2 linked regions of the Homo sapiens genome follow. The protein of the gene in region 2 purifies or fractionates together with the protein of the main gene of each other region. This does not show direct contact. Each region holds a gene or a part of one and is shown on either strand. Other genes may lie near its edges.

What was found.
Region 1: the proteins of ACP1 (region 2) and POTEE purify together in Homo sapiens (affinity purification with mass spectrometry; 2 studies listed by BioGRID and IntAct, with this or other methods). This does not show direct contact.

Annotation. Positions count from the first base shown.
Region 1 is NC_000002.12:131,261,204-131,265,825, reverse strand, and holds the end of POTEE (POTE ankyrin domain family member E), read right to left. Parts: intron 4,101-4,622; coding exon 3,980-4,100; intron 2,472-3,979; coding exon 1,143-2,471; 3' UTR 548-1,142; downstream 1-547.
Region 2 is NC_000002.12:274,947-279,162, forward strand, and holds the end of ACP1 (low molecular weight phosphotyrosine protein phosphatase), read left to right. Parts: intron 1-193; coding exon 194-255; intron 256-2,033; coding exon 2,034-2,139; intron 2,140-2,280; coding exon 2,281-2,358; 3' UTR 2,359-3,337; downstream 3,338-4,216. UniProt on the Homo sapiens protein: Acts on tyrosine phosphorylated proteins, low-MW aryl phosphates and natural and synthetic acyl phosphates with differences in substrate specificity between isoform 1 and isoform 2.

The sequences.
Region 1 (4,622 bases), about 130 Mb from region 2:
GAGGTCCTGTCCAGTGAGGTGGAACAGGATCAGGGGCCTGCTTACAGAAGCAGTCTGGCCATGATTTGGTAAAGCAGCTATGCTGTGCTGTGGGATCTCTTCTGTCCCTCGTCGGTTTGTACTCTCCAAAGCCCGCAGGCTGGAATGACTAAGTTGCCTGAACGGGAAAGATGGCGGCCTGCCCCGTCTTTTCTCTCAGAGTTTTATCTTGTTTCGTGGAGCTTAATTTTTAGCCTGTTGATTTTACTGTCTACATTAGACTTGTTGAGAAAGAATCTGTTCTCTTTTAGGTGAGATAAATGAGAATTCATTGTCTTCTGTAAATAAACCTGTTCATGTCTTGTTCTCTGGAAAGAAGTCTCTTTCAGCTATCTGACTTTGGTCACAATCATGTAGAGCAGCAGCCAGTCTACAATGACGTAATTGAATTTCCATTTCCAGTGTTTCCTCGTTGTGTCTTACATTGTCCAGTTCAGAACTGAGCATTTTATTCTCAGTTGTCAACATGCTAAGCTGTCCACTGTACTGAAATACTGTGCTTCCTCAATTTTTTTTAAGGTGTGCACTTTTATCCAACTCTCCTCAAGTCAGAGTACAGGTAAGCCCTGGCTGCCTCCAGCCACTCTCAGGGAGACCAAAAGCCTTCATACACCCCAAGTTGGGGTACAAAAGAGGGGGGCCACGAAGGCTGATCATTCAAAATAAAACAAAATTAAAAAGTATTAAGGCGAAGATTCAAAAAATTTTGCATTATGTAATTTGCACAAAAGCAATGCTATCACCTCCCCTGTGTGAACTAGGGAGAGGACTGGGCCATTCTCCTTAGAGAGAAGTGGGATGGCTTTTAGCAGGGCAAGGGGCTTCCTGAAACAATGCGTCTCACAATATTTGGAATGACTATTGAAAAGAAGAACAATGTACAATCAAAGTCCTTGGCAACATTGTAGAACTTTGGAGGAAGCTTCCTCCAACCGACTGCTGTCACCTTCACCATTCCGGTTTTTAAATCCTGAGTCAAGCCAATAAAAAACAAAACAAAAAATGAAACAAGAAAACAAATAAAGCCATGCCAATCTCATGTTGTTTTCTGAGAAGTTTGGTTTTGTCAAGAAAGGGTGTAACGCAACTAAGTCAGAGTCCACCTAGAAGCATTTGCGGTGGACAATGGAGGGGCCTGACTCATCATACTCCTGCTTGCTGATCCACATCTGCTGGAAGGTGGACAGCGAGGCCAGGATGGAGCCACCGACCCACACGGAGTACTTGCGCTTGGGAGGAGCAATGATCCTGATCTTCATCATGCTAGGCGCCAGGGCAGCGATCTCCTTCTGCATTCTGTGGGCCATGCCAGGGTACATGGTGGTGCCGCCAGACAGCACTGTGTTGGTGTACAGGTCTTTGCGGATGTCCACATCAGACTTCATGATGGAGTTGAAGGTAGTTTCATGGATGCCACAGGATTCCATGCCCAGGAAGCAAGGCTGGAAGAGCGCCTCGGGGCAGCGGAACCGCTCGTTGCCGATGGTGATGACCTGGCCATCGGGCAGCTCGTAGCTCTTCTCTAGGGAGGAGCTGGAGGCCGCCGTGGCCATCTCCTGCTCGAAGTCCAGGGCAACATAGCACAGCTTCTCTTTGATGTCACGCACGATTTCCCGCTCGGCCATGGTGGTGAACCTATAGCCACGCTCGGTGAGGATCTTCATGAGGTAGTCAGGCAGTTCCCGCCCAGCCAGGTCTAGGCGCAGGGTGGCATGGGGGAGGGCATTCCCCTCATAGATGGGCACAGTGTGGGTGACCCCGTCACCAGAGTCCATCACGATGCCAGTAGTACGGCCAGAGGTGTACAGGGACGGCACGGCCTGGATGGCCACGTACATGGCTGGGGTGTTGAAGGTCTCAAACATGATCTGGGTCATCTTCTCGCGGTTGGCCTTGGGGTTCAGGGGGGCCTCGGTCAGCAGGATGGGGTGCTCCTCGGGAGCCACACGCAGCTCGTTGTAGAAGGTGTGGTGCCAGATCTTCTCCATGTCATCCCAGTTGGTGATGATGCCGTGTTCCATGGGGTACTTCAGGGTCAGGATGCCTCTCTTGCTCTGGGCCTCCTTGCCCACATAGGACTCTTTCTGATGCATGCCCCCCATCATGCCCTGCTGCCTGGGGCGCCCCACGATGGAAGGGAAGACAGCCCGGGGGGCATCGTCGCCCGCAAAGCCGGCCTTGCACATGCCAGAGCCGTTGTCAATGACGAGCACGGCGGTATCATCATCCATGGTGAGCTCATTCAATTGTAGAGCCTTTAAAAGATTATCATTCTTTTTTTTCACACTTTCAATATCCTCCAAATATTTCTTTTCTCTTAGCTGGCTCTGATGTTTCATTGTGTCTAGCTCCAGTCTTAGCATGGCAATTTCTTCCCGCAACGTACTATTTTCATGCAAGACGTCTTTTTCTTTCTTACAACTAAGAGAAAGCTAAGTAAACAAAGAGAACTTTTAGTTAGCACTCAATAGATTGACATATCATGATTTCTTCTGAAATTCAAAAATAACATGTATTTGTATAATGAAAGAATCCCCATAGTGGATATTTAACTGGAAAAAAATTGGACAAAACTTCAAACCTAATAAGAGTGTAAATTCCTCCAGTGATTTATTTTTCATCGTCTTTAAATAAATATTTAAACTTTTAGGAATCTGCTCCTAAATTCCTAAAAGTTTAAATATTTATTTAAAGACGATGAAAAATAAATCACTAGAGGATTTTTAAGAATCCCAGAATTAAAAAAGCCTTTTTCTGAGTTACAAAAAACCCAGAGGCATAAAATATAAGATTAATAATTTGACTACATTTTTAAGATTAGGTTTACACTCTGATATCTAACCTATCAACCACACCATCCTAAGAGCCTTAGCTATGCATATATTTGGACAGAAGCAATTTCTCAAAGTTCTTTAAGTTTCTTTTACTGAAGAACGTTTTACCGATATTCTACATTTCTAATATTTCTATACTCAGTTATAAGAATTACATTTATTTATAACTGTCAAATCTAAGCACTGTACCCTTCTACACTGTACACATCTGTATCTAGGCATTGCTCTTCTACATATAATACTGAACTCATTTAAGATCGCGATTCTTAAAAGGAGAGGTCAAAAAATATACACAGATGCAGGATTTTCCCCAGGTCTGCTGATGCTACTTCTAGTGATCCTCCACAAAACCACACTTACTTCTGTGGTGTAAATATATAAATACAAAAGAAACCTTTTGTTTCAAAATATGAATGGTAAATAAGATACAACTTATAGAGATCTTCTTAGAAATCATGAGATTATTTGCCATTGCGGTAACTTTTATTTCCTCTTTATAATGTTTGAAACAGTAGTAATGGTGAAATAGGGGAAATATACTGAACTATTTCTCCAGAAACAAAATACTTATCAATAAATTATTACTAAATGTGTATCATGGCATGTCATTGTTTTCAAACCTCTTTACACTGAAATGAGAAACTACTTGGAGCAAACTGTTCCTCTCTGCAAAAGTAAGGATAATGGTATCCACAATGTGGCCTCTGACCCAGCTATACATTTCCTACTTTCTTATCAGTAAAAATAATCAATTGACTTCTCTATTAACATTTTTTAAAAAACTAATGTCCAAAAACGAGAAAATCTGTTTTCAGTAGCAAAACTTATTTCTGATGTGGAAAGATCATCAATTCTTATGAAAAACATCAAATACTTCTCCTTTGGATTGAGGCCATTGTGCAGGTCACTACTCAACTGTTGCAGGCAAATGAAGGTGAATTAAGAACATGGCTTTATCCTATACGTACGTATATAGATATATGACAAAGGATATATAGAATATATACACACATATATATGACTTAAAAATCCTTTATATTTCCAAAATACAGTTCTTTAAAATATACACACATATAAAAACATTTGAAAATAACTAAAGAAAATACCTCAGAATTCATTTTTTCAACCACTTCTATCTGCTTTTCTTCATGAATCAGAATCTCATCGTGTAATATTCCAGTGTTCTGTTCTTCACAAAATTGCTTCTGAGTATCATTTTGTTCGTCACTAGAAGAAATTTTAATTTTCATGAAATACTGGAGCTGTCCCTAAAATGATGTACAGGGCAAGATGGCGCCATCAGATGTCATTCACACAATGCATATCTGCACATTATTCCAAGACAAGGCAAAGGGGTCTCACATCTGTTAACCAGGTGTCCCCAACCATGCTGGCACCAGGGACTGGTTTTGTGGAAGATAATGTTTACAGGAACCTGAGGTGGGGGATGGTTCCAGGATGATTCAAGTATATTACATTCATTGTGCACTTTATTTCTATTATTATTAATATATAATGAAATAATTATATCTCACCAAAATGTAGAATCAGTGGGAGCCCTGAGCTTGTTTTCCTGCAACTAGATGGTCCCATTTGGGGGTGACGGAAGATGGTGACAGATCAGAAAGGCATTCGATTCTCATAAGGAGTGAACAACCTATATCCCCCTGCATGAGCAACTTACAACAGGGTTCAGGTCACACTCAGGACAATCTAATGCCACCGCTGATCTGACAGGAGGAGGAGCTC
Region 2 (4,216 bases):
ATTTCTTTGCAGTACAATTTTGAGAAATAGGTTAACTCTATTTTAACTTAAAAGTACCCTAAAAATTATTTAATTGTTTATTAGTGAGTAACAGGCTCAAATACAGCAGTTTTTTTTTTCTTTTAGTATTGCTTTGCATCCTCTAGGCTTGAATGGTATAAACACTGTGTTTTGACTTCTTATTCAATTTTAGATTACCAAAGAAGATTTTGCCACATTTGATTATATACTATGTATGGATGAAAGCAATCTGAGGTAATCCTGTTTTTGAAGAATATTTCTGTTCAACTCTCAGTTCAGCAGTGGGCCAAGTAATTTGTTGTCCAGATTTACTTTTTCTATTTTAAAGGTTTTAATAGTCAGTGATGGTCACCATATGTAGAATTATTTTATTTAGAACAGCAAAAAACTTAGTAATCTAGAATTGTCTCTTAGGTATTTACAAGGAAATACACCTTAGAAAAGGGAAAGTCTAGTTGTTAATAGCATGATTTAATTGGAAAACTAGCTTGGCTGTTATAGTTTTGTATCAAGCATATTGTTCTGCATGAGAACGATTTTGATATTTTTGCTGTAATGATTCCTGGGCAGGGCAGTGTTTTATTGATTCTCAGGTCAAAGCTCTGCAACCATAGGTTCCTATTATTATCCCATCTTGTAAAAGAAGGAAGTGAGAAACGGTAATGTTAGGTTATGTCCCCGAGTTCACACAGCTAGCATGTGGTGGATGTCATGGGATTTAAGCCTAGGCTCAGTGAGGAAGGGCCCTGCTGTATGCACCCCTGCCTCAGTCACCACCCTCCTGACCTGCCCCAGTCCCATGTTCAAGGCGTCATCGGGAACGGATCATAATTTAATGTCACTCCAGGATTCTGACTTGCATCACTACTTATTCATAAATATCTCATGTTTTTGATGAAGATAAACTATTTGTGCTTTTAATTACTTTTGTACAAATGAACAGATAGGGATGCACCAGTTTCAATTATTTTTTATTAATTAGGACCTTCATTAAAATGCATGTATTTTTTAATTTTTATTTTTCAGTCCTTATTCTGTTCTCATTGTTTTTGCTGACACCATAGCCCATAGGCATCGTAAAAACACCTTTTTAGGAGACCCCATTTGCTTTGACTGGCACTGAGCACCGTGTTTCTTTGCGTGTGGGGCAAGTGGAGTTCCTGCAGCCTCACATTTGCACGTGCTGTTCCTCTGCCTGGAAGCTCCTCCTTGCTTCTTGGGTCATTCGGCTCCTATTTGCCCCTCGTGGGTCAGCTTAAATTCATTTCTTGATAGAGGTATTCTGCTGCCCTGTCATTAGGCCAGATTGTGCATTAGACTTAGGCCTGCCTGCAGTTCTCATTCCTGCACCTAATCCTGAGCTGTAAAACTTCGTGCATGGGAGCTCTTGGCTGTTCCGTTCCCACATAAAGCACGTACCTGACTCATCAACTCATCTGTCGCAGGTGCTCAGTCGAAATTTGTTAAATAAATGGAGGCGCTTAGTTAAGTTTGCCTTTTTCTTTTGTAGCAATGTGAAAGCTAAGGGTGGAAGTCTAGAGTGAAGCTGAGTTTTCAGCTTGGGCAGAGGCTTAAGGAATAAAAGATGGAAGAGTAATTAAGGAGTGGGTCGTGCTGTGGGAAGTGCTGTGTCAAGACACCTGAGGATGGAATTGGTAGCCCTCTGTTTTGGGACTGGTTCAGATGGTGTTTTGGGTTCCTTTCTATGACCTTTATCTCTGAAACTTGATTGTCTTAAAATGTATTTTGTGGGAGAAAATATAATTATTGTATATTTTGTGTAACAGAATCAGTGAGAATAAGCTGCTGTCGCAAACTGTCTTGCCTAGAGAGAGGGCAGTGGCATACAGCTGCAGAAGGGGCCACACGGGCCTGCTGAGTGTTCCGTTTCATTTCAAATTAGGTCATTCTGTCTTGATTTTGATATGGATGTTTCAGAACACCCTAGCAGATGTCCCTGTTTAACTTGAAACCATAGATCAGAAAACTAAGTTCATATTTCAATTTTACAGAGATTTGAATAGAAAAAGTAATCAAGTTAAAACCTGCAAAGCTAAAATTGAACTACTTGGGAGCTATGATCCACAAAAACAACTTATTATTGAAGATCCCTATTATGTAAGTACAGTTCACGTTTTAGGGCTAATATGAAGACCCAACACATTTGTATCCTGCCATATTAAATAACAGATGAGATTGTGTTAAGGATGTTTTTGTTATGCAGGTTTTGCCATTTTCTTCTTTTTCCTGTCCATTTAGGGGAATGACTCTGACTTTGAGACGGTGTACCAGCAGTGTGTCAGGTGCTGCAGAGCGTTCTTGGAGAAGGCCCACTGAGGCAGGTTCGTGCCCTGCTGCGGCCAGCCTGACTAGACCCCACCCTGAGGTCCTGCATTTCTCAGTCGGTGTGTAATCACGTTCCAGGGCCCAAAGCCCAGCTCTTTGTTCAGTTGACTTACTGTTTCTTACCTTAAAAAGTAATTGTAGATGGAAATCAGTTGTGTTTGGCAGGAGAATCAATAAAAATCTTTGATTCAGACAGCTTATGGGGTATTTTAAGCATTCTTAGACTAGTTGAACATCTCACTTTGCCCCAGTTACAAAAATAGTAGAACAAGCAACATAAAACAATGAAGGAAAACCTCACTTGAAGGCCCAGGTCAACATCTAAGCCTGTTGAGACTTAGATAATCGAGTCTACCTCTTCAGTAGGTTTGTGTGGATGGCCTGGAGGGCAGGTGCCCTCTGCTCCCCAGTGCTACCTCTCTCTTCCCTAGGGCCTTTTGTGGATTGACAGTAGTCCCCTCCGTAGGAGCTCACAGTCTAGATTAGAAGTGTTTTAATTTCTACACACCCATAGTGCACACTTGTATATTGAAAAGATAGGGAAGAGAGAAACATTTATGGAATCAGTCGTTGGCACCTTCAATACTTCATGATTTTTGTCGAGTTTACTTCATGAGGAGGTCAGCCCATTGGCTCCCATCTGAACCACTTTGCCTCTGAAACTTAATTACATCCAGAAAGAAGGACACTTGTATGCTAGTCTATGGTCAGTTGAGGAATATGACTGTTTTTATATGCACATGTAACCCAAATGTCCAATATAAATTGGCTTATTTTTTAAAATAATTTTAAAAGTTGGGAAAAGTGTTATTATTTGGCATGCTTAAATATTGAATAAGTATTCTTCATCAGCATTTAATAAATGTATAGGCAGATGTAAGGTAATTTCTGTGTATTTTGAGATAATGTCAAAATCATGAATATTTCAAAATAAACTGGGGAGTTATAAAAATACAACTAGAGATATAAATCTGGTGTCTGCCTGTTTTTTTATTGACAGGTAAGGAAGCATTTGAAAACATTGTATTGTCCTTTTTACATGATCTGTGATGTTAGGTGTGCATATTTTATCTTCAGGATAAGGAAGTAAAATGATGAAAATAAGCACATTGCTGCCCCATGTCATCATGTCTAGTTTCTGAAGGAAGTTTGAGGTTCTACAGCTGGAACTGTCCTTGCCCAGTACCATCCTCTGGACATGTTGCCTCTACGCTGTGCCCTCCTGTGCAGTGATGCACAGCTGCCTGGCCAGGACATCTGCACTCCTGACCTCAGTATCATGAGGGTCCCAGGCAGTGCCATGGGGAGGAGACACGTTTGATCCTTGACTCCCTAGTATCTGGAGGATAAGCTGTTGCCAGATGAAAGTGAGTAGTTTCCCCACTGTACCATGTGGAAGTGCCAGGCTGTCTTCATAGGAAGAAAGTTTGCAAACCCAGTGAGTCTTGCTCTTGTTGGAATTACTCAGACATACAGAAAACTGAGGGGATTAAATATTAATAGATTGGATATTTGAACATGAAATCCTTAAAACATAAAAAATGGGGAAGGAAAGGTCAAGTAATGAGCTGTAATTAGAAAACAGGATTAAATAAGAGCACTTCAAAAGTTACACCCTGTTCTCTTCATTCAGTAATTGCTTTTAATCTCAAAGTCAAAATTTCTTACTCTTCTATTCCTTTATGTTTGGAAATAAAATCCTATAGTTTTTCTTTAATGTTTATCTCTATAAATACAGATCCTCAAACAAATCCTAGGACTCTTGACTATTCTGTCCTTATGGCTACACCCAGACGATACCATCTGCCGACAAGGGCTCATATGAATGGAGAAACTCATTGCTTTGCCG